Linked DNA regions of Homo sapiens. The protein of the gene in region 3 purifies or fractionates together with the protein of the main gene of each other region. This does not show direct contact. Each region holds a gene or a part of one and is shown on either strand. Other genes may lie near its edges. The genes, in order: RB1, STAT3, HDAC3, SKI, CCT2, SMARCA4 and PRAM1.

The links.
Region 1: the proteins of HDAC3 (region 3) and RB1 purify together in Homo sapiens (affinity purification with western blotting; 3 studies listed by BioGRID). This does not show direct contact.
Region 2: the proteins of HDAC3 (region 3) and STAT3 purify together in Homo sapiens (affinity purification with western blotting; 4 studies listed by BioGRID). This does not show direct contact.
Region 4: the proteins of HDAC3 (region 3) and SKI purify together in Homo sapiens (affinity purification with western blotting; 4 studies listed by BioGRID and IntAct, with this or other methods). This does not show direct contact.
Region 5: the proteins of HDAC3 (region 3) and CCT2 purify together in Homo sapiens (affinity purification with mass spectrometry; 2 studies listed by BioGRID and IntAct, with this or other methods). This does not show direct contact.
Region 6: the proteins of HDAC3 (region 3) and SMARCA4 purify together in Homo sapiens (affinity purification with western blotting, with the first as the bait; 2 studies listed by BioGRID). This does not show direct contact.
Region 7: the proteins of HDAC3 (region 3) and PRAM1 purify together in Homo sapiens (affinity purification with western blotting; 2 studies listed by BioGRID). This does not show direct contact.

The regions. Positions count from the first base shown.
Region 1 is NC_000013.11:48,366,251-48,369,750, reverse strand, and holds part of RB1 (retinoblastoma-associated protein), read right to left. Parts: intron 2,258-3,500; coding exon 2,148-2,257; intron 1,225-2,147; coding exon 1,147-1,224; intron 1-1,146. UniProt on the Homo sapiens protein: Tumor suppressor that is a key regulator of the G1/S transition of the cell cycle. The hypophosphorylated form binds transcription regulators of the E2F family, preventing transcription of E2F-responsive genes.
Region 2 is NC_000017.11:42,381,943-42,385,442, forward strand, and holds part of STAT3 (signal transducer and activator of transcription 3), read right to left. Parts: intron 1-3,500. UniProt on the Homo sapiens protein: Signal transducer and transcription activator that mediates cellular responses to interleukins, KITLG/SCF, LEP and other growth factors. Once activated, recruits coactivators, such as NCOA1 or MED1, to the promoter region of the target gene.
Region 3 is NC_000005.10:141,623,616-141,626,849, forward strand, and holds part of HDAC3 (histone deacetylase 3), read right to left. Parts: intron 2,669-3,234; coding exon 2,579-2,668; intron 2,457-2,578; coding exon 2,398-2,456; intron 2,150-2,397; coding exon 2,070-2,149; intron 1,751-2,069; coding exon 1,593-1,750; coding exon of another isoform or gene 1,505-1,592; exon of another isoform or gene 1,247-1,504; intron 1-1,246. UniProt on the Homo sapiens protein: Histone deacetylase that catalyzes the deacetylation of lysine residues on the N-terminal part of the core histones (H2A, H2B, H3 and H4), and some other non-histone substrates.
Region 4 is NC_000001.11:2,301,319-2,304,818, reverse strand, and holds part of SKI (ski oncogene), read right to left. Parts: intron 1,842-3,500; coding exon 1,716-1,841; intron 1,535-1,715; coding exon 1,419-1,534; intron 980-1,418; coding exon 717-979; coding exon of another isoform or gene 711-716; intron 527-710; coding exon 234-526; intron 1-233. UniProt on the Homo sapiens protein: May play a role in terminal differentiation of skeletal muscle cells but not in the determination of cells to the myogenic lineage. Functions as a repressor of TGF-beta signaling.
Region 5 is NC_000012.12:69,588,459-69,591,958, forward strand, and holds part of CCT2 (T-complex protein 1 subunit beta), read left to right. Parts: intron 1-1,026; coding exon 1,027-1,229; intron 1,230-3,500. UniProt on the Homo sapiens protein: Component of the chaperonin-containing T-complex (TRiC), a molecular chaperone complex that assists the folding of actin, tubulin and other proteins upon ATP hydrolysis.
Region 6 is NC_000019.10:10,985,030-10,988,529, reverse strand, and holds part of SMARCA4 (SWI/SNF-related matrix-associated actin-dependent regulator of chromatin subfamily A member 4), read right to left. Parts: intron 3,258-3,500; coding exon 3,125-3,257; intron 2,342-3,124; coding exon 1,937-2,341; intron 1,626-1,936; coding exon 1,527-1,625; intron 865-1,526; coding exon 606-864; intron 1-605. UniProt on the Homo sapiens protein: ATPase involved in transcriptional activation and repression of select genes by chromatin remodeling (alteration of DNA-nucleosome topology).
Region 7 is NC_000019.10:8,489,556-8,492,640, forward strand, and holds the end of PRAM1 (PML-RARA-regulated adapter molecule 1), read right to left. Parts: intron 1,603-3,085; coding exon 1,545-1,602; intron 1,441-1,544; coding exon 1,332-1,440; intron 1,202-1,331; coding exon 1,039-1,201; intron 955-1,038; coding exon 921-954; intron 818-920; coding exon 783-817; coding exon of another isoform or gene 672-782; coding exon 634-671; 3' UTR 501-633; downstream 1-500. UniProt on the Homo sapiens protein: May be involved in myeloid differentiation. May be involved in integrin signaling in neutrophils. Binds to PtdIns(4)P.

The DNA.
Region 1 (3,500 bases), on a different chromosome or scaffold from region 3:
GAGTAGCAGTTGGTAATCCATGGAAAGAAAAGGAGGAAATTTCAAGAAGAGGGAATATCAAGTACGAGGGTTTTCAAAAAACTTGGAAAGCCCAAGAAACAGAGAAGGCCAAAGTGTGGCTAACACAGAGTGAGAAAGAAAACAAGATGAGGTTGGAGAGGCAACAGAAACCAGACCATATAAGATCTTTTAGGCATTGTTAAGGAATTTGCACTGTATACCAATTGCAATGGGAAGCAGTCAGTGGGTTTAACAGCAAGGTGAATGTAACTGATTTACATTTCTAGGAGAAATTCTGGGGGCTCTATGGAGAATATCTTTGATGGTGAGGAGACAGGAACAATGATGAGACCAGAAGGAGCAAGATCAGGTAGTAGGCTACTGCAAAAAATCCAAGAGAAAGAGAACAATGTCTTGGACAAGAGTTGTGAGAGCAGAAATGGAGAAAAGTAGATGCACTCAGGAAATATTTTGGAGGTAGATTATTCAACAAGCCTTGATAACAGATTTTGATGTGGGAAATGAGTGAGGAAAAAGACATAAAAAATAGTTCTAATCCTTTAAGGTTGCATGCAGATCAAATAGTGATACTTTAATTTTTTCTTTTTTATTTACTGAAATGGAACACATTCCTATTTTAGGTTATGTTCTTTAAGAACAGACAAAACTAGGTCCAATAACCATATCTTCAGCAACCAGTAAAATGCCCAGCACACAAAGATTATATATACACATTTTTTTTTTGAGACGGAGTTTCGCTCTTGTCACCCAGGCTGAAGTGCAATGGCACGATCTCAGCTCTCTGCAACCTCCGCCTCCCGGGTTCAAGCAATTCTCCTGCCTCAGCCTCCCGAGCAGCTGGGATTACAGGCACACACCACCACCCCCAGCTAATTTTTGTATTTCTAGTAGAGACGGGGTTTCACCATGTTGGCCAGGCCGGTCTCAAACTCCTAACCTCAGGTGATCTGCCCGCCTTGGCCTCCCAAAGTGCTGGGATTACAGGTGTGATCCACCACACCTGGCCTTCAATATATATTTCTTACATGTATGTATGAATACATAAAGAAACGTGAACAAATCTGAAACACTATAAAGCCATGAATAACAAAATTATAATATAATTAAAAGTAGGAAAATTCATACCTAACTGGAGTGTGTGGAGGAATTACATTCACCTCTTCATCAAGGTTACTTTTTCGTGGTGTTCTCTGTGTTTCAAAACTAAATAACAATAAGTGAAGTCATTCACATACTGAAAATTTACAATTTGTGCTTTATGCATCAAAAAAGCAGTATAATGCTTCTGTTGTCTCATAAAATCATATAAAATGATAACTCAATAATAGATAGGATAGAAAATAGATGACCCAGCTGCTGCTTAAATAAAATATTTTTCACTACTCTTTTTAATTGTGGGTCTCTTTCCATTATGTTTATGACAAAGAGGTATACCAATCATTAAGTCTTTTTTTAAAAGTGAAAGTCAGATGCTTTCTCCCTGGTGGTATTGATAACCAAGTTGTTCAGTATTAAAAAGCATTAAAACTCAAGTTTTTCAATGCATTATTCCTTCTAAAAACTTTATTTCCACTTAAATAAAATTTAAAACATTTTACTGTGTTTAACTTCTAAATTACGCATATTTTCAGTTTCATATTAAAAGAGTTCATGCTAAAGACACAAAATTAACTTTACTTATGATCAGTCAAAAATTTTAACAATCACTCTCAACCATTCCAATTTTAGGTTTCTACATGATAATAACAGAGACTACACTTTTGTATAAACTTTTTTAAATAAACCAGGCAGGCAATAGTATATGAAAGGATAGAAATAAGGTAGAGACCACTATTTGAAGAAACTAATTACTTTAGCCATTATCTTTTGGTGCACATTTTAAAAAATTATATTCAGTTAACTGCAAAAAGGTAACTGTTATAGGACACACAATTCACATTAAATCTATATTTGTAGATAAGTTATATGCTTAAAATACTGTTAAACTTTTCTTTGTATAAAGACATTTGAAAGTAATTTGTTATAAATGATATCTAAAGGTCACTAAGCTAAAGACTATATAATCTACCTATATCAGTATCAACCTATATCTAAAGCAAATCAATCAAATATACCATGTGCAATACCTGTCTATAGAATCAGTCTGAAGAGTTTTATCATGATCCAAAAATAATCTTGCATCTAGATCTTTATTTTTAAGATAAATTTCTTCGTATCGTTTAGAAAGATTTTCAACCTTGAAAGAAAAAAGTCACTGACAATTATCCTTTACATGTCATTACATCTCTCAGCACACAGAGGCACAGATTTCATTAAAGAATTTTTGTATAATATACATTTAATTTTGTAATATACACTGAGTTCGCATGCAATATAAATAAGGTCTATCTAAAAGTGAGGTACAGAAAATTGCAACATTTGTTCAACTTTGATTTTAGGTCTATTTCGTGCATAGAAAATATTTATTAGAATTTTATGTAGACAAAGATAGCCAATGCTACAAAACAGTACCTAAGATAAAAATAGGTATTATAATAACTGTTTAACTGCCAAGATTTTCCAAACATCCCATATATGCTTTACTTTTAATCTTTTTTTTTTTTTTTTTTTTGAGATGGAGTTTCGCTCTTTCGCCCAGGCTGGAGTGCAGTGGCACAATCTCGGCTCACTGCCACCTCTGCCCCCGGGGTTCAAGCAACTTTCCTGCCTCAGCCTCCCGAGTAGCTGGGATTATAGGTACCTGCTACCATGCCCGGCTAATTTTTGTATTTTTAGTAGAGACGGGGTTTCGCCATGTTGGCCAAGCTGGTCTTGAACTCCTGACCTCAGGTGATCCACCTGCCTCGGCCTCCCAAAGTACTAGAATTACAGGCGTGAGCCACCGCGCCCAGCCTGCTTTTAATCTTTTATGCTTATCAATATAAAATATTTTTTCAAACATTGTTGCAAATCCTCTTGATTACATATTCTACCAATGTTTTCTAAACCCTTTGGTTCACTCCAGTACCCTTCAGTTAAGTATCTTGGGCAAGACAATTAGCTCAATTTATCAGTTCAATTAACACACTTGCACAATTTATTCCCAATCTTAGATACTTTTTCAATTGCTAGAATTTGTAAATCTTTCATCAGTTCTGATCCATAATTTTTTAATTATACTTTAAAAACCAATGCCCAAGAGAAAACTATTGGCATGCCTTCTACTGTGACTTTTAACGCCAAAGTGATTCCAACCTCAGAGAAGTAAAATTGCATTTTAAAAGGAGTGATAGGAAGAAATCCAATTAAATGCAAACTTTTCATTAATCTTCATAAATGTATTAGATAGAACAGTAATCCATGCTTATGTTTAATCATTGTTCCTGTCCTACCTTAGTTGAGGCACTAATTACCAGTCATCTATTGATTGGCTATATTATGTGAAATATTGGAGAAAAAGTAAAATTACTCTTAAGATTTATATTAAAACTATAATCCTT
Region 2 (3,500 bases), on a different chromosome or scaffold from region 3:
CCCAATTATTAACAGAAAAGGGATAAGAACTGTGGTTCCTTGGCCTCCTTTCCCCTTGGTTTAGTTCTCCTAAATTAAGAACTTCTACTTATAGCTCCCTGAACACACAAGGCTGTTTTAAGCCTCTGCACCCTCATGTTCCTTCAGCCTTGAATGCAACTTTTTGTAACGCAACTTCGTGGAAAGAATTCCTATTCATCCTATAAAACCCTATTCAGGTGTTCCCATCTGATAAAGCCCCTCAATAATGATGACTTTCTCTCACTCCTGAAAAGAATTAATCTCTTTTCTTGGATATTTAGTAAGAACTTAGATTTACCGAGCTCTTACTATGTGCCAGGCACTATGCTAAGCATTTTATCCACATTATCTTATTGAATCGTCAACAGTACCTACAAGATAAGCACTGTTATAATCTTCTTTTACAGATAAGAAAATAGAGGCTCAGATTCTGACTAGGAAGTGGCAGATCCAGGATTCAGTCCCAGATCTGTTTGACTTCAGAGCCAGAGTCTTGAACCACTCACTGCCCTGTCGTCTCCCCTGTCCTACTTCCATACTGGCATAGCACACACCTCGGTCCCTGCAACATCTCCAGTTTCATGAAAACGGACAATATTTCATTATCCTTGGATCCTGCCTGACGCAATACCTGGCTCTCAACATGTTTGCTGATCTGAATTAAAGAGTTGCGGTAATCCTTTTTTTTTTCTTTTTTTTTTGAGATGGAGTCCCACTCTGTTGCCCAGGCTGGAGTGCAGTGGCACGATCTCAGCTCACTGCAAGCTCCGCCTCCAGGACTCATGCCATTCTCCTGCCTCAGCCTCCTGAGTAGCTGGGACTACAGGCGTCTGCCACCACGCTGGGCTAATTTTTTGTATTTTTAGTAGAGGCGGAGTTTCACCGTGTTAGCCAGGATGGTCTCGATCTCCTGACCTCGTGATCCGCCCACAGCCTCCCAAAGTGCTGGAATTACAGGCATGAGCCACCACACCCGGCTGGGTAAGAGTTGCAGTAATCCTAACATGACAAATGAGAACTGACCATAACAGAAATTCATTCTTCCATATGTTATTCCCAGGCCTCATAACCTCTCCTTCCTCTGAAGACATGTAGCATTCAGTGTAGCACTGTCAGAATGTCTCACTCTGTCCCCCAGTCTGGAGTGCAGTGGCAGGATCTTGGCTCACTGCAGCCTCCACCTCCCAGGTTCAAGCAATTCTCCTGGCTCAGCCTCCAGAGTAGCTGGAACTACAGGCGTGTGCCACCACACCTGGCTAATTTTTGTATTTTTAGTAGAGACGGGGTTTTACCATGTTGGCCAGGCTGGTCTCAAACTCCTGACCTCAAGTGATCCGCTCACCTCTGCCTCACAAAGCGCTGGGATTACAGGCATCAGCCACCATGCCCAGCCTGTTTTTGCCTTTTTTTTTTTTTTAAAGAAACAAAGTGGTCTCACTATGTTGCCCAGGCTGGTCTTGAACTCCTGGGCTCAAGCAATCCTCTTGCCTCGGCCTTCCAAAGTGCTGGGATTATAGGCATGAGCCACTGCTCCTGGCCCGATATGCTACTCCTTTTAAAAACTGGAGGCATCTCAAACAATTTACCACCAAAGGACCATGTGGCCATACTGACTAAAGCGCACTACACTTTACGCTTACGTCTTGTAAGCCAAGGTGTCTAACAAAGAGTATATAACCACCATATTAATTCTTTACACCATAATCAATAAGGGCTGGGCCAGCCCAGCAATGCCATCCTCCTGGATCTCACTGAGGCTGCTCCAGAACACCAGAAGTTCTTCAGGATTCGGGGATGTCCCTCAAGTACTCTTTCAGTGGTTTTTATAAATGACTCAAAAGTTATGGTGAAATTTTTAAGTGCCAAAGACATAAAATATGAGTGGTGGTTTGTATCCAATCAAAAATCCTCAAAAAACACTTCTGCACTTAAGCACACTATACTTTTTTCACCCAAAGTACCAAATCAAACTAGTCAGGATACCTACCTTTGTACAATGTCAGACTCCAGTTAATAACTCCCCTAGGGCAGAGGGCATATGCACTGATTTACTTTGTACAAATTAACCAGCATCAGGCAATCAGGCCTGTGCCTAACACATAGTAAGCACTCTATGATTAAACATCAGTGCTTCGGCTCCAAAGTTTTATTTATTTATTTATTTATTTATTTTTTTTTTTTTTGAGACGGAGTCTCGCTCTGTCGCCCAGGCTGGAGTGCAGTGGTGCGATATCGGCTCACTGCAAGCTCCGCCTCCCGAGTTCACGCTCTTCTCCTGCCTCAGCCTCCCGAGTAGCTGGGACTACAGACGCCCGCCACAACGCCCGGCTACTTTTTTTTGTATTTTTAGTAGAGATGGGGTTTCACCGTGTTAGCCAGGATGGTCTCGATCTCCTGGCCTCGTGATCCGCGCGTCTGGGCCTCCCAAAGTGCTGGGATTACAGGCGTGAGCCACCGCGCCCGGCGCCCCGAAAGTTTTAAAAGCTTCCCCTACAAAAGAACAGAACTGAAATTCCTTGGTCCTGTATTCAATGTCTTTTGTAAGTAATCACTTCTCCCCTACTTACCCTCCTAGTCTACCGGGCTACCAGGAATTTTTTTTTTTTTTGGAGACAGGGTCTCACTCTGTCACCCAGGCTGGAGTGCGGTGGCGGGATCACGGCTCACTGCAGCCTTAACCCCCGGGGCTTGGGTGATCCTCCCACCTTAGTCTCACCAGTAGCTGGGACTACAGGTCCACGCCACCAGGCCTGGCTAATTTTTTTTATTTTTAGGGGAGAGGGAGTTTTACCACGTTGCCCAAGCTGGTCTCAAACTCCTGGGCTCAAGCAATCCTCCTGCCTCAGCCTCCCAAAGTGCTGGGATTACAGGCATAAACCACCGCAAATTCTTTACACCTATCAAATTCCACCCATTATTTGGGACCCAGTTGAAATCCCTCTTTGGCAAAAAGACTTTCTAGACAACTCCAGGCCTCATAACCTCTCCTTTCTCTGAAGATCTGTAGCATTCAGCCTAGCACTGTCCAATAGAACGTTCTATGATAACAGAAAAGTTCTACATCTGTACTGTATGTTCTTTTATGTAGAACAGCTACCTTGTTAGCACAAGTGTAAAGTCTCACCATCTCTTTGATGACAACATGTTACATTGGATGGTTAAAACATTTATCAGCTCCCCCAGTAGACTGCAATTTCTGTGAACAAGATACAACTTATTCTTCATAGCAACTCTGACAAAGTTGCAAAAGGTATATATATGTTGGCCAGGCAAGGTGGTTCACGCCTGTAATCCCAGCACTTTGGGAGGCTGAGGTGGGCAGATCTCTTGAGGTCAGGAGTTTGAGACCAGCCTGGTCAATATAGTGAAACCTTATCTCTACTAAAAATACAAAAATTAGCCGGGCGTAGTGGCGGGCACCTGTAATCCCAGCTACTCAGGAGGCTGAGGTGCGAGAATCACTTGAACCCGGGAGGAGG
Region 3 (3,234 bases):
TTCCTCACTCAGAAGGGATCGGGGGATATCCTTGGAGGAAGAGAGTTGCAGAGATCCCCAAGAGTCAGAGCAGTAAAGCCCAGGTCCAGAGGAGAGATTCGGAGGCCTGAATTCTAAGACAGAAGCAGATTCTAGAAGGGGCTGAGAAGCCCATCAGGCTCTGCAGCAGAGCCGGCTCAAACCTCTAACCCTGCGTGGGAGCAAGACAGCGTGTCCCACAAGTGTCCAGCTGTGGTTATCCCTCAGTCATGTAAGGAAATCTGTTCCCCATTAAGTGCATCTGTTTCTGCACTTCTTGGTTCTGTTGTCTTTCCCTTTCATTTTTCAGCAAAGTTTTGGGATTAAAAAAAAATTCCATCCTATCCTTTTTCCCCCCTAATTCATTCCATCTACAAATATTTTGTATGTATCTCAGAAAGATAAAGACTTTTAAAAAAAAAAAAAAAACATAACCACAATGCAATTATCCCACCCGAAAAAATTAACAGAGCAAAGAAATCAAAGAGCCTTAGAGAGTATTACGCAGGCAGTGACCTGTCCAGCTCAAGACCTGGAAAGACTGAGAAAAATGCTGGCAAGACTATAGGGTGCTACAGACTTTCTGGACGGCAATTTGGCAGCAAATATAAAAAATTTTAGGCCAGGCTCAGTGGCTCACGCCTATAATCCCAGCACTTTGGAAGGCTGGGGCAGGAGGACATTTGAGCCCAGGAGTTTGAGACCAGCCTGGGCAACAAGGCAAGACTCCGTCTCTACCAAAAAAAAAAAAAAAAAAAAAAAAAAAAAAAAAAATTAGCCAGGTGTCGTGGTGCACACCTATGATTCCAGCTACTCGAGGGGCTGAGGCAGGAGGATCGCTTGAACCCAGGAGTTCAAGATTGCAGTGAGCTATAATCATGCCACTGTACTCCAGCCTGGGTGACAGAATGAGACCCTGTCTCAAAAAAAAAAAAAAAAAAAAAATTAATGCACACAGCCTTTGACCTAGCAGCAACCATTCTACTATCTAACCCACTCAAACAAGAATGCAAAGATGTATAATGTAAGGGGGTTCATTGCCACATTATTATTGTAATACCAAAAAAATGGAAAATAATCTATCCACATAGTAAATTATTATACAGCTGATAAAATACTGAAGCAGATCTATATTAGCTAGCTGAAAACAGCTATATGATGTAAAGCAGCATACGTAGAATGACCCTATTTGTATTTACGAAAAACCAAAAACCACACAAACTGTAAATGAGTGTATATGTGTTTGTTTATATGTACATACAGAATAGTATATTTGCAATCTATAGAAAAAGGTCTATCCAAAACAATAAAAACTATTAACAGTGGTTACTCCTGTGGAATAGGTCTGGGATTGTGTGAACGCCAACACCATATTTTGGTGCTGTTTTAAAATTTTGCAATAAATACGTGTTACTTTTGTCATTAAAAATAACAAAGAAAAGAGTGAGGAAATTGTAGCAGACTAAAGGAGGTAAGCCAGAGGCAATTAAACTAATACCTTCCCATTTACTTTTTCCCTTTTAAACCTCCCCAGCAAGCCTATTGAAAGTAGGCTGAAGTCCCTGCTCCCAGACCTGCTATAGTTCTCCTCAGGACCCCTCTCCTCTGCATCAGCCTCATCAGTCCTGTCATAGGTCAGGAGGTCTGCAGGCACGTCATGAATCTGGACACTAGGTGCATGGTTCAGCATCTTCAGGTTTTCAAAGATTGTCTGGCGGATCTGGTCCAGATACTGGTTGGAAATGAGGAATACAGAGTGAGCAGTTTCCAGAGATTCCCAGGACATGGAATCTCCTAGCTGCCTTTTACCCCTACCATACTGGTTTTCATCTCAGTGGTACCTCTAGTTCAGGTCCCCCAACTGATAGCTCTCCCTCCCCACCAACCCCAACTGCCTCTACTTTAAACTGGACTGCCTCCTAGTCAATAACAGTGACTGTGATGGCTTAGAACTTCCTTCTCTTTGGTTTTTCCTACTTCCCACATCTTTGACCTCTCCTGGGCTCCACCTTTCAGGAGAAGTTTGTGCTCAGCTTTTCTGAGCTGCTGACCTGGCGTGAGTTCTGATTCTCGATGCGGGTGCTGACATCTGGATGAAGTGTGAAGTCTGGGGCAAAGTACTCGAAGTATTCTTGGGGAGGAGAGGAGAAAGTATGGCTCAGACTGAGAAAGGCAGCTAACAAGACTTCCCAATCTTTTTCCTTCCCATCCAGAGCACCTACATAATAGCTGCCCAATCTCTTCCCTGCTCTGAGCCCAGGGGTTTAGTCTGCAGAGCTCTGAGAGTGTAAAATTTCCCATGTGCCTTCAAACCAGGTCATTCTGGAATCTGGTGAGAATGGCCTTCCTGTTATGGGGGTGTTGTGGGGTGGTCCTTACCACTATAGGGAAGCTCCTCACTAATGGCCTCTTCTACCAGCAGCGATGTCTCATATGTCCTGAAACCAACCAGCAGAGGGGAGCAGGCTGACCAAGTGGGCTGAAGGACCCATGTGGCCATATCTGAGGGACACCCTAGCTCACACTGGACAACAGGGGAGGAAATCAGGAGAGTGCTCACCAGCAGCGGGCAACATTTCGGACAGTATAACCACCACCACCCAGCACGAGTAGAGGGATATTGAAGCTCTTGACATATTCAACGCATTCCCTGTTAAAAGGAACCAGAGGAAGATGTGGAGGAGGTTATCAAAAGACAAGGTAAATACCTTTAGGTATTGCCTGAAAGGAGCACAAGAAAACTATAAATGTTCTAAATCTTTATCTTGATAGTGAAATTCATTATGTTATACCCTTAAGATTTGGGTATACTTTATATGCTGTGTCTCAATAAAAATTTTAAAATAAAGCACAGTCCCCCCTCTGTTCTGCTCAACACCCTCCCTGGCACCCTGCCTGCTAATCAACTATTCTCATCAACCCAAGTTCTGTCAATTCTAGCCTTGAAAATATAACTCACGCCCGGCGCGGTGCTCACGCCTTTGTAGTAGTCCCAGCTACTCAGGAGGCTGAGGCAGGAGAAATGCTTGAACCCAGGAGGCAGAGCTTGCACTGAGCCAAGATCGTGCCACTGCACTCCAGCCTGGGTGACAGAGCAAGACTCCATCTCAAAAAAGAAAAAAAAAAACATATATATGTGTGTGTGTGTGTGTATATATATATATATACACACACACACACACACACCTCTCAGATCATCTACTTCTCTCCATTGCC
Region 4 (3,500 bases), on a different chromosome or scaffold from region 3:
GGCCTCCTGGGATGTCCATCAGCCTGGGGACACTGAGGGGCTCACCATACCCAGGGCTGCAGCTTTTGGGAGACGGACCCCCAAGGTCCCAGGCAGGCCCACTGAGGTGGAGGCAGAGAGGAGCGCATGGGGCAGCCAGGAAGGGAGGAGGCACCACCTGTGCCCGTTCACCTGGTGCAGGCTGTGCTCACTGCCCGTGCCCTGGACCTCCCAGCACCACTCGCCCCGCTCACCTGGTGGAGGCTGCGCTTGGCCTGCAGGGCTGCGCTGAGCTTCTCCTCCTGCTTCACGCGCATCTTGACCACCTCATGCAGGAACTTCTCTTTGGCTTCCTTGGTGTCCAGGCCGCCCTCCAGTGCCTGCCGCAGGTGCTCCAGCTCCGCCTCCAGCCCACTGGGGGCGTCGGCAGGGGCCGCAGCATCAGGGACGGCCGAGGGCAGGGCACGCGCACCCGGGGAGCCCAGGTCCTTGGCGGAGCTGGATGAGGTAAAGGACGGGGAAGAGAGCGAGGACAAGGAGGAGGTGACTGAGGAGGAAGCAGAGACAGAAACAAAGTCATGGAAGTGCCCGGCAGCTCCACACCAGGGAGACGCGCCGCTCCCGGAGGAACCTGCGAAACATGGGGCCACCAACGCACCCCCGGCGACCAGCCCCCCTCAGCCAGTGCCACCCCCACAGCCCACAGGGAGGAGGCACAGAAAGCGACTCACACGTACATTCCTCCCTGCTTTCAACTTCCACCTCCGCCTCCGAGTCCTTGTCCTCCTCTGGGGCAGCCACGGGCGCCAGCGTCTCTGGGGCTCCTGGGGTGTCCACAGTCAGCTTCCGCTTCCGAGGCTGGGTGCAAGTGGCGAGAGGCTCGGGGGCCCGGGAGACGGCGGCGGCACACGGAGGGCTGCTCACAACCTTCTGCTGGGCCGGCGGTGCGAGGGCCACGTTGGGCGCCACGGCTGTCTCAAAGCTCTTGTAGGAGTAGAAGCTGGAGGGGCAGGCGGGTGTCGGGAAGGTGCCTCTGTCCCCAAGCACCACCCAGACACATCCTGGCGCACACCCCCTCTGAAGGTGTTAAACAGGAAAGACTTTCCCAGCTCCGAATCTTCAAGTCAAGCTTACAGTTCCCTAAGAACCCGTAAGCGTTTTCTGCTTGCTGGGTCTCTTGCGAAGGCCAGACACAGGCCAACACATCAAGAAGCTGCGCCCAGCAGACAGGGCTCCACCCACGACTCCACCCAGAACACAGGGAACGCTCTAGGTGTGCTCTCCCTGATGCCAGCCAAAGGAACCAACACCGAGACTGCCCTGACCAAAAGGCGGCAGGTCTGGGCACCCAGCCTGCAGAAACATGGGCGCGTCCGCATGCACAGCCCTCGTGGAGCCTCCCCCGTGATCAGAAACACCTGTGAATGGCGCCCACTCACCTGTCTCGGATGAGGGCCGGGAGGTGTGGGGAGAGCTCTTTCTCACTCGCTGACACTGCGGGGGACCAGGGTCGGAAAGCAGAGAGGCGCTGGCGAGGGTGAACACAGCCCAGGCTCTGTCGAGAAAGAGTTGTCTGTGTGAGTGACCAGGAGAAAAACAAGCCACTTCATGTCCCTGAGGCTGCGCCGGGTGCCAGCCCTCAGTAGCGGGCAGGTGGAGCTGCCAGCCGCTGGGTCTGCCCAAGGAGAAGGGCCCAGTACCCACCACCCCAAGGACCCCGACAGGCCCCACAGCACCTTATTGGAAGAGCCGGCCAAGGTCCGCAGCCAGCTGGACGGCTTGTCCTTTTCGGAAGGCGCGGGGGACTGGGAAGAGGTGTCATCTGTTTTGGGTCTTATGGAGGCCGGAGGCTCAGAGGAGACCTGCGATCAATGAAAGGTTTTGTTGGCACCTGTGGTTCCCAGGGCAGGGTCCCTCCACCAGCCCCGTGGCTGGCACATGGCAGTCAGAGCCCCATGCACTCCGGCCACAAACGACCCTGAGTGGCGCAGAAGGCAGATTCCAGGGCACCCCCCAGGAGACCAAGTTCACTTTGCATAAAGGCCCTTAGGCCACGCGCAACAGGCACGTGGAGGCTGTGCTGAGGGACAAGTCATCTCCGAGAGAACAGAGTGGACCTTGTCCTGCCATTCCGGGTGACCTCACCCACGGCTGCAGCAGGTTTGGGATGGAGCACCAAGACCCACTCTCCCCTTCCACAGCGGCTCAGCCTGGCCAGGAGTCCCTCGTCCTTCTCCTGCCAAACCCCTTTCCTAGAACCCGAGTGTGTCCTCAGAGGGTGCCCAGCGCTGGGCACTCAGCTCAACCAGCCACAGCACGGCGAGAGCCACTCACGACGGATGCGTCTGGGAAGGGCAGCTGCGGCACAGGGGTGGTCGCGGGGAGGGGACACCGTGTCCCTGTGGGCCACTGGCACAGGTGCATTAAAGAGTGGGCATTCTGGCTGCCCCCTCCCCATGGGAAGGAAACATTTTCAAAATGAAGGACACCATCCCCAAGGAGCCTGGCTCCTACAGGATGGCACCACACACACCTTTGCCTCGCTCCTTGCCAGCCCCGGTGCTGGAGGAAGCTTAGCGAAGGTGCCCAGACCCAGCCCACCCAGAACCAGGTCCCGCTGGTGGAGGAAGCTTAGCGAAGGTGCCTGGACCCAGCCCACTCAGAACCAGGTGTTGTGTGTCAGGTGCTGAGGCACATCCCCCAAGAGCCAGTGAGTGATGTGGGTTGTGTGCTGGGGGCCTGAGCCGGTACATCCAGCCTCAGGCAAACGTGAACTCCCACAGCCCTGCGGCTGGAAACCCCTGAGACGGTGCTGCCCGCAAGGCACAACTGAGACCCAAGGTCTCTTCCCAAGCAAAATCACAGGGCAGTCTCCGTAAAATGGGCCATTCCTCTACTGCCAAAGACCCCACAGGACAGCACAGAGTCTCCAGGGCAGCTGGCACCAGGTCTACACCACAGGCCAATGCAGAACAGGCCACACAGGGCAAGGGGCCCTTCACAGGGGTGAGGTCCCACTCACTCTGCCGAGGCCAACCTCAAGAGGAGGCAGCAAAGTCGGGCGGTGGGGGCTCCGCCCTTGCCCTCAGCCAGGAAGCCTTGGTGGACAGAGCACACTCAGGGCCGGGGGCTCTTCCCACCTCCAGGACTCTAGGAGAAGACGCTGCATCAGGAACCAGCCTCCTGGAGGCAGCAGGGACCCTGCTTCCCTAGGGGGAAGATGGGGCGCAGGGCAGGCTGTCCATCAAGGTGCTCCAATTATGGGGATGGAGGGCCCTGGGGGAAGATCTGGCCAAAGCCCGTGGCCTCCCCTGCAGCACGTGCACCCACCCTGCAGCCCTCAGGGAACAAGCAGGGTGGGGCCAGGGGAGGGGCAGGTGCCTGGCTCTGACCTGGGCCCAAGGGAGAAAGATAAGTGCTCGGGCGCACAGGGCCGGGGACGCAGGGCAGGCAGCCCCTGAAGGCTCACGGCTGTGGATGGTTTTTTTCAGAGACACTAAAATAGCTGTTCAGGAAAAAAG
Region 5 (3,500 bases), on a different chromosome or scaffold from region 3:
TATCATCAAAATATACAAATAAAGCAAATAGTATAATACTGTATAGAGAATTTGTTAGCCTCTTTTTAACCTAGTTAAATATTAAGCACATTTTTGGATGTCAATTTTCTGTGCAGTATTTTAATAGAGTTACACATTTGAATATTTGGCTAGAATGACTGTATTAACCTATCTGTAGGGGGAGATTTGTGTATTTGATGATTTTTAGCATTATAAAATAACTTTGTGACGTTGCGACATAGCCCAAAGGTTTCTAGAAGTGTAATTGTTGGGTCCAAAGGTAAGTGTGTGTGTTTTAAGGCACCCCCAAACCTGGGCTGCACAGCAGGTGAGCAGCAGGTGGAAAAATTGTCTTCCCATGAAACCAGTCCCTGGTGCCAAAAAGGTCCGGGACCACTGTTTTAAGGCACTTCTATTTATTTGCCCATTCACAACTGTATAATAATACTTGTTTTTCACGTCCTTTTATTTATTTATTTATTTTGAGACGGAGTCTCGCTCTTAGAGTTGCCCAGAATGGAGTGCAGTGGCACGACTTCGGCTGACTGCAACCTCTGCCTCCCGGGTTCAAGCGATTCTCTTGCCTCAGCCTCCCAAGTAGCAGGGACTACAGGCATGTGCCATCATAGCCAGCTAATTTTGTATTTTTAGTGTAGATGGGGTTTCACCATGTTGCTCAGGCTGGTCTTGAACTGACCTCAAGTGATCCATCCTCCTCAGTCTCCCAAAGTGCTAGGATTACAGGCGTGAGCCACTGTGCCCGGCCATTTCTCACATTCTTGCCAACATTAGACTTTTGCATGCTTGTGTGGCCCCCACCCCTCTTTTTTTTTTGGCATTTTGCCAGTTTGGTGGGGAAAATAACATCTTTAATTTGTGTTTCTTGATTACTGCTGAGGTTTAATTCTTTTCATATAGCTTACAGACTTGATCAGTTAGGGTAAAATTATCTATTGACATGAATATCTAGATAAATTTTGAAAAGTAAAGTAGGGTTAATATGTATATTTGGTTGGTTTTATTTAGTTCCGATGAAGTTAAATTCCGTCAAGATTTAATGAATATTGCGGGCACAACATTATCCTCAAAACTTCTTACTCATCACAAAGACCACTTTACAAAGTTAGCTGTAGAAGCAGTTCTCAGACTGAAAGGCTCTGGCAACCTGGAGGCAATTCATATTATCAAGAAGCTAGGAGGAAGTTTGGCAGATTCCTATTTAGATGAAGGTATGTATGAATGTCAGATACAAGAAGCTTTGATTAGATGCTGAGGGCTGAATACTGAGTGAATTCTGTTTTGAGACCAGTGACCCTTTACAAAGCCAGTGAACTTGAATTTAAGGACATATCATATGTGCAACCATTTTTGTCATTTTATTGACAGTGTACTCCTCTTCCCGCGCTATTCCAGCATTGTTGATGATCTCTAGAGTTTACTTAACTACCATGAAGTTATTTGCAGTCTCTGATAAAGAGGAAATGTTTTCTTTTACTAGAAATCATCTATTCTCAAATGGTACTTTTACCAGGATTATATGTATTCTCCAGGAAGGGTCTGGGTCAGTCAAATCATTGTGTTAGCTGGTTGTTGAGGATGTACAGTTGACCATTGAACAACATGGGTTTGAATTATGTAGGTTCACAATGCAGGTTTTTTCAATAAATATAGTCAGCCCTTTGTGTCCGTGGTTTGCACATGTGCAACCGAACGTGGATGGAAAATGCAGTATTTGCAGGATTTGAAACCCATGTATATAGTGGGCCAGCTTTTCAAATCTGCTGGTTCCAGTCAGCCTGGAACTTAAGTATGTGGGGATTTTGGTGTATGTGGGCGTCTTGGAACCAGTCCCCTTCGTATACTGGGGGATGACTAGTTTTTTTTAGAAAAGAATTAAAAAAAATTTCTTTAACAAATAATTATGTATGTTTATAGGGCAAGAGGATCTAGTTCTTAAAGAGTGATAAATGAGACATAATAAGTACTGCTTTCTTAGTAGTACATTTTTGTTTAGAGTGAAGTTTTCCAGATCATCTTCACATTATATTTACTTCACAAAATGGCCTGTCAAAAAGTATAGGCATTCTTATATAGAGAAGGAAAAAAAAAGAATTAGATGGTGCTTTACAACTTCTGTTTTTACCAGTGGTTTGGAGTCCTGGTTTTGTTCTGTGTCATAGGTCTTGATTTATTTTAAGAGAGAGTCATAATTCTGAAAATACTCTTGATTAAGTTTATATACAAGAGCTGTGTAGCATTTCTTTTTTTTTTTTTTTGAGACGGAGTCTGGCTGTGTCACCCAGGCTGGAGTGCAGCAGTATGATCTCGCCTCACTGCAACCACTGCCTCCTGAGTTAAGGCGATTCTCCTGCCTCAGCCTCCTGAGTAGGTGGGATTACAGGCGTGTGCCACCATGCCTGGCTAACTTTTTTGTATTTTTAGTAGAGACGGGGTATCGCCATGTTGACCAGGCTGGTCTCGAACTCCTGACCTAAGGGGATCCACCTGCCTCAGCCTCCCAAAGTACTGGGATTACAGGCGTGAGCCACCATGCCTGGCCGCTGCGTAGCATTTCTGATAGGGGCTGGTGGTAGGGAAGGAGCATTAAAACAAGAATATTAGTAGCACAAGCAGCACCATTCTTGAATGTCTGCTCTGTACTAGGAATTGTAATAGGAACTTTAGTCATTTAGTCATCATGACCTGGTGAGTGAGGATTAGGTTCACTTGAATAGAGTAGAAAACCCAAGATAATGGTGGCTTCATAATGGAAAAGTTTCTAATGTAACCAAAAAAAGGCCTAGAAAGGTAGGTGGTACTGGGTTTGTATGATGGTTCCAAAGCAGCAGGACTAGGCTGGTAACTAGCACCTCTGCTACTGGTTACATTCCTGTTTTACAAATTAGCATTTCTGGTTGGATAATTTGTCGAAGGTTATATAGCCAGCAGCAGGGGCATGATCAGGGTCAGATTTATCTGACTCCACGGTGTCCATGGTTTTTCCATTTTTACCACCAGCCTCAATACCTGAATCTTCAATTTTTCTCTTGTGGTGGTGATTTTAAGCTAATAAAAATATAGGACTTAACCTATTGTCTTTATATTGCAACCCATACAGATGTGGGTGTAGCGTATATCTGAAACAAAAGTTTCAAAATACTGTTTAATTTTATTGTCTGTACTGTGCTCTTATATTTTCTGTTTCATATTTTTTAAGTAACCCATTAAATTGATTTTGTAATAACTCTTCTAGTGGGATGCTTTATACCAGAAGTGTCCAAGGAAGAGAATACAGTCATGGGTTCCTAGTTTCTGTTTCTGGTTGGGTCGGTAAAGCCCCTTCCTCCTCCCTCTTTTCTGCTTATCACTAGAGACAGAAACTAAAATCCATGGCTTTCAGGCGCTAAAAGCCTAAAAGCAAAACAACAACAGAATAAGGCAGGTTGGACAAGCTTGCTTTTATGCCTTCTAAGAGCTTGGTAAATTGGACTTAAATAGCT
Region 6 (3,500 bases), on a different chromosome or scaffold from region 3:
GGGTGAGGAAGGATGCTGGGCAGGAGTGGACATAAGGCAAAGCTTATTGGGCAGATAATTGAAGCTACAGGCAGGTTTTAATCCACGGAGTAGATCTGATATCAATCATAAAAAGAGAATTCATGCCAGGTGCGGTGGCTCATGCCTGTAATCCCAGCACTTTGGGAGCATCTGAGGTCAGGAGCTCGAGACCAGCCTGACCAACATGGAGAAACCCTGCCTCTACTAAAATAAATACAAAATTAGCCAGGTGTGGTGGCGCATGCCTATAATCCCAGCTACTCAGGAGGCTGAGGCAGAAGAATCGCTTGAAGCCAGGAGATGCAGGTTGCAGTGAACCGAGATTGTGCCATTGCACTCCAGCGTGGGCAACAAGAGTGAAACTCCGTCTCAAAAAAAAAAAAAGAGAGAGAACTCAAACTGCTGTGTGGGAAACAGACCGCAGCCAGGGTGGGAGCAGGGAGGTGAGGAAGGAGGTGTAGGCCAAGTGGCAGTGGTGGGCACAGGGCACTGTTTGCTAGAGTGGGGGAGAAAGTTGAGTGGCTTCCCCAGGGGGACATGGGGGACACAGGGCAGTGACCTTGGCAACTGGGCCCCGCCCTCACCTGTACTCGCGCTCCTGCAGGATCTCCACAGGGTCGAGGCCCCGCGGCTTCTGGATGGGGGTGATGCGGCTCTGCTTCTGGTGCAGTGGCACCATGGGCGCGGGCTGGGCCGGCTGCCCGGGGGACTGGGTCTGCGGTGGCATCACGGGCGAGGCGGCGGGTGGGACGGCAGGGGGCGCGGGGGAAGGGCGGCCCGTTGGCTGCGGGGGAATCAGCTTCTGAGGGGTGCTCGTGGGGGCAGCAGCATTCGCCATGGGTCCTGGGAGAAGGCAAGGGGCCAGGGCGTCATGTTGAGCTCTGGGGCCCATCCCGGGCTGGAAATGGAAAGCTGCTGAGCTGCTTGAGGCACTGGGGACAGGCAGACCCCGCCCATCTCCCACCTTTCACCCAGGGGTGTCCTTCACACCTGCCTTGGGCTCCAACCTCCTCCAGATCTCAGCCTCACCCTCGTCCTTCACACCCTCCACTGGGGCCAGCCCCAGGCTCCCAAGGCCTTTTTGTTCTGTCTGTGGCTCTATGGCAGCATTTCCTGTCATCTCCTCCTAGTGCCAACTAAATCCAGTGGAAGCAATTTGCCCCTCAATGCCCATCGCTAAACCTCAGGCTCCAAGAGGATGGGTAATGAGTCCCACTGCCTCTTTGAGCCCAACAGATGGGAGCCTGCAGCACTTACTGAGCAATTACATATACAGGGCTCAGGGACTGGGTGAAGGCCACAAGCTGTCAGAGGAGGGATGAACGACAGCCTTTGGGAACTGACTGGCTACAGGGGAGACCCGGGGACCACCACAAGAAAAGTACAGGCTGCAGTTCAGCCTGACCACCCTCGGCCCTTTCTCCCTGACAAAGCTCATCTCAAGGACCCAAGCTTGAGATGGGGAGTAAGGGCACGGGTGCACCACCATAGAAGAGGGAGCTCACCTTCAGGCCAGGGCTTGGGAGGCCCTCCAGGAGGCTGGCCTGGCATCCCGGGGGGCACGCCCGAGGGTCCTGGGGGAGGCATGTTGGGCCCTCCCATACCTACATGTAGGGAGAAACAAAAGAGAAAACAGTGCGTCCCAGGTTTATGCCTGCGCCCAGCCCCGTGGGCAGCCCTGGCTCCAGGGGACACAGCAGATACACCTATTAACCAGCGGCCCCAGGGGAAGCGGGGAGCTGGGGAAGCAGCATTTAGCTGCCCCCACCACCCGAGCACCCAGAAGTGCAGTATGGGCCCGTGCAATCCCAAACCGGGGAACCCAGTCGGCAACAGAGCACGGTCTGTCCACCCCGCCACCCACGCCCCAGCCATTCGCTCTGAGACACCTGAGGGCCAGGGCAGCCAGTCTTACCATGAGGCCTGCTGTAATTTGGAGGTGCCGGGCCGGGACCCGGGCCGGGGCCAGGGCCAGGGCCAGGGCCGGGTCCTGTTGCGGACACCGAGGGTGGAGGTAGCGTTGGCATCTGCTGCTGCATCCCGGGCATCGGCCGCTTGCCCTGCACCGCCATCTGCAGGTGGTCGGGGAGGGGCTGCCCCCTGGCCAGCATCTTGTAGGCCATGATCTGAGCTCTGAGCTGGTGCAGCTGGTTCTGGTTAAATGGGGTTGGGCCCCGGTTCTGCTGCCCCAAGGCCTGGGGGTCAGCACCATCCAGCGGGGCACCTCCTGGCCCGGAAGACATCTGGGGCCCCGAAGACGGGCCACTGGCTGGAACTGGACTAGAGGCATGCTCAGAGCCACCCAGGGGCGAGGGGTAACCTGCAGAGAAAGGTCAGCCCACTGGTCACTCGGCAGCATATGTCTGTGATTTTTACAGCCTCTTCCCCCTACACCAGCTCCTACTCTGAGACAGGGCACAGCCAAATGGCATCCTTCTCTTGAGTCAACCAGGGGCACCTGGAGGGCACATGCTGAAGGCACCTCAGCCCAGCAGCCGACCTGGTGGATTTGGTTTGGCCCACGTCTCAGTAAGGTGCTTCTGGTTAATGCTGAGAACCTGTGCATGAAATCACGGCTCTCTCCCGGCTTCCGCCTGCCTGTCCACAGGCGGGGTCCACATCCTCGGGCTCGCCAGGCCCACCCCCAACACTTCCATTCCCAGTGCAGCCCCTGAGCTTCCCACCCCTGATGACAGCAAGGCCTTGGAAAGTCACCCACCATATCACTTCTCAATTGTCCTCGTACAGAAAAGGCACCTGCTGGGCTCATTAAAGCAGAGTCCCAGGCCCCAGGAATCTGTATTTCCAGTAAGTTCCTGGGTGGCACGGGGCTGCTGCCCTGCACAGCCCTCCTCTATCACCCATGCTGAACATGGTCTGCCCCCCAACCAGCATTTCCCCTTCCAGGGCTGCTCCGAGACGAGGTGGCCAGAACAGAGCACCAGCCACGCCATGCCAGACAGCTCTCTGTGGCGGGCCACCCACCCGGCTACATCATCCTAGGTACTCCCTGAATCCATCCTGTGGGAACCCAGGGGAGGAAAATGATCTGAGGACTCTGGAGTATGACAAACACAAGGCAGGAAGGAACGCAGTTCTGTACCTTGGGAGTGCTGGTCCATGGGGCTGGGCGGGGGCCCCATCCCAGCATGGCCCCCTGACCGCATCCCCATTCCTTTCATCTGGTTGTAGCGCGGGTCGTCCGACATGCCCTTCTCATGCATGGACTCCATGGGCTGCGAGAGGGACCATGGCAAGGCAGGGTCAGCATGTGGAACGTGAGGTGGCAGCGCAGCTATGCGCTGCCCGAGAGAAGCTCGAGGGCACCGAGAACAGCCACCCGAAGATGACGCGCATCTCCCCAGTCCCCAGCATGACTCCAAGGCAAGGTTCTGACACCTACTTAGGCCTCGAGACAGGTACACAAAATAAATGTCGCCCAGTGGAGCACGAGCATATGGGAGACTGTGGTCAAGCAA
Region 7 (3,085 bases), on a different chromosome or scaffold from region 3:
GGGCACAGGCCCTGCCTGAGTCAGGCTTGTTCTCTGGCTTTTTTTTTTTCCTGCTGAAACAGACCAAACTGTGTGCCACCTTCCATGCGTGTTCAGTCCTGCCAGAGGCTCAGGCCAAATCTGATTGATACCTGGGCTCTGTCAGAATTGGGTATAGGCCCCACCCCTTCCCCCAGTGAAGCGCTCTCAGGATCCACTCAGGCCAAGCAGGTGTGCATACCTGGCAAGGAGGCCTGGCTGCTGCTGTTCTGTTGGCTGTGGAGGGGCGCGTCCTGCCCGGCTGCCTGCCTGGTAGCACATGCTGTTCTGATCACCCGGAGCCCCCCTTGCTCACCAGCTTCTTGCCACCCTTTTCTCCCCACTGGCTTTTATCCCTGAGGGGTGAGACCATGGCAGGGTGACCCCAGACACACCCCCTTTTGTGTTTGGTCAGGGGGTTCCCGTGCCTTTGCTCCACTGTGTGCCAATCAGGAGGGAAAGAAAAGACAAGAAGCAGGGACTGCTTTAAACTGGGGCTTTATGTGGCCAGGTACAAGCCCAGGCAGCTCTGTGACTTTCCCGCGCCGGGATCCAGGGCTCCTGGGTGAGCGGGCGCTGGGCTGGCTGGCTGTCCTGGCCCCACGCCTACCGGTCTTACCGTCCCAGGGGGAGTGGTTGGTTTTCCAGGGGATCTGCCGAGGAAGCGTGACTTCCATGGACCCCTCTCCCCAGAAGCCCAATAGTGAGCAGCGCCCCCGGGGAATCGCCAGGGTCCCTCCAGCCCTCCCAGAGTGTCCACGTACCGCAGAAGTCGACATCATCGTACACCTCCGTCTCCCTGGCAGAGCACAGTTGGGTCAGCAAGGGGCACCGTGGCCCATTCCCCCCACCCTGCACCACACACCCCGCACTCCCCCACCACGGTCAGGGCTGGCACTCACAGGGGCAGGAGCGCTGTTCTGGGCACGTAGCCATCTGTGGAGAGAGTGGGCATGGTGGGTTCTGAGGCCCAGGGTGGCGGCGGGGACCTCCCGGGGCTGCGGGGCCGGGCGCACTCACATTTGCCTTTGGGGTCCCGGCACAGCATCTCCTCATTGCTGGTGAACTCGATCACCTCCAGGATCTCCCCGCGCCGGATCCCGAGGTGCTTGCCACCCCCGCGACGTGTCTTAGCGTTGGGGTCGATCATCATCTTCGTGTGAACCACGATCTCCCCTTCAAACTGGGGCGCGAGATGTTAGGGCCTCTGCTTGTGCTGCCGCCCTTGGGCCCCTGTCTTCTTTCTGAGCCTGGGATCGGTGGGACCCTGGTCTCCGCCCTGCCAGGACTCCTGCTTAGCTCAGAGGCCTCACCTTGAACTTCTTCCGGAACTCCCTCTCGGCCTTCTCTGCCTTCCTCAGCTGCTTCAGCAACTTTGGGTCCATGGGTGGCAACTGCTGTGGCTGGGGATCCTTCTCCTTCCTGATAGCCCCCACCAAGGAATTGTGTGCTCGTGAGCAAGTTGTGCTCCTCTGGGGGTTCCTGGAGCTCGCCCCCCGTCTGCCCACCCCCTCTGCCCATGGCACCTGAGCGCTGGGTCTTGTGGTGGCCTCCTGGCGGCTTGCTGAACTGAGGGCGCTTCATCTGGGGACAGTCAGGACTCCGAGTCAAGGCAGGGCCCGCCGGCTCAGCCTTTACCCTGGTAGCTGTTTTTTGTTTGTTTTTGTGTTTTTGTTTTGAGACGAAGTCTTGCTCTGTCACCCAGGCTGGAGTGCAATGGCACAATCTCGGCTCACTGCAACCTTCGCCTCCTGGGTTCAAGCGATTCTCCTACCTCAGGCTCCCGAGTAGCTGGGATTACAGGTGTCCATCACCACACCTGGCTGATTTTTGTATTTTTAACACAGACAGGTTTCACCATGTGGGCCAGGCTGGTCTTGAACTCCTGACCTCAGGCAATCCACTCGCCTCGGCCTCCTAAAGTGCTGGGATTACAGGCGTGAGCCACTGCGCCTGGCAGGTGGCTGGATCTTGAGTAAGGCCTCCCTGTGTCAGTTCTGAGGACTCCCCAAATCCCACCAGGTCCCCTCCCAAACCTCTCCCTGCCCACCTTCTTCCGCAAGCCTTTCTCAGGGGTCATGGGTTCTTCTGGATTGCCTTCCATTCCCTTAACTCCTGCCACGTGCTCAGCATGGTGGGAACTGCTGGGCCACGCCCCTCATGGCAGCCCTCTCAGCAACCTTGTTCATGCCAGTAGACGCCACTGTCATGCCCAACTTGTCCACAAGGAAATAAAGGCTCAGAGAGGTCAAGCAAACTGCCCAAGGTCACCCAGCTGGTAAATGGTAAAGGCAGGATTTATCTGTAGGCTTCGAGGCCATTTCACTTCTGCCTCCTAGAGCAAGTTGGGTCTAGGGTTCTTTTTTATTTTTTGAGACGGAGTTTTGCTCTTGTTGCCCAGGCTAGAGTGTGCAATGGCGCGATCTCAGCTCACTGCAACCTCCACCTCCTGGGTTCAAGCGATTCTCCTCCCTCAACCTCCCAAGTAGGTGGGATTACAGGCACATGCCACCACACCCGGCTAATTTTTTTTTTTATTTTTAGTAGAGACGGGTTTCACCATGTTGGCCAGGCTGGTCTCAAACTCCTGACCTCAGGTGATCCACCCGCCTCGGCCTCCCAAAGTGCTGGGATTATAGGCGTGAGCCACCGTGCCTAGCCGTTTTTTTTTTTGTTTCTTTTGTTTTTGTTTTTGTTTTTGAGACGGAGTTTCATTCTTGTTGCCCAGGCTGGAGTGCAATGGCATGATCTCAGCTCACTGCAACCTCTGCCTCCTGGGTTCAAGCGATTCTCCTGCCTCAGCATCCTGAGTAGCTGGGATTATAAGCACCCACTGCCACACCCAGCTGATTTTTGTATTTTTAGTACAGATGAGGTTTCGTCATGTTGGCCAGGCTGGTCTCTAACTCCTGACCTCAGGTGATGCCCCTGCCTCAGCCTCCCAAAGTGCTGGGATTACAGGCCTGAGCCACTGCACCCGGTAGGTTCTGGGGTTCTACTGTAATGAGATTTGGGTGAAAAACTAAGGCAGAAGGGAGGATGAGGAGAGGCTGGCCCATGGGTACAA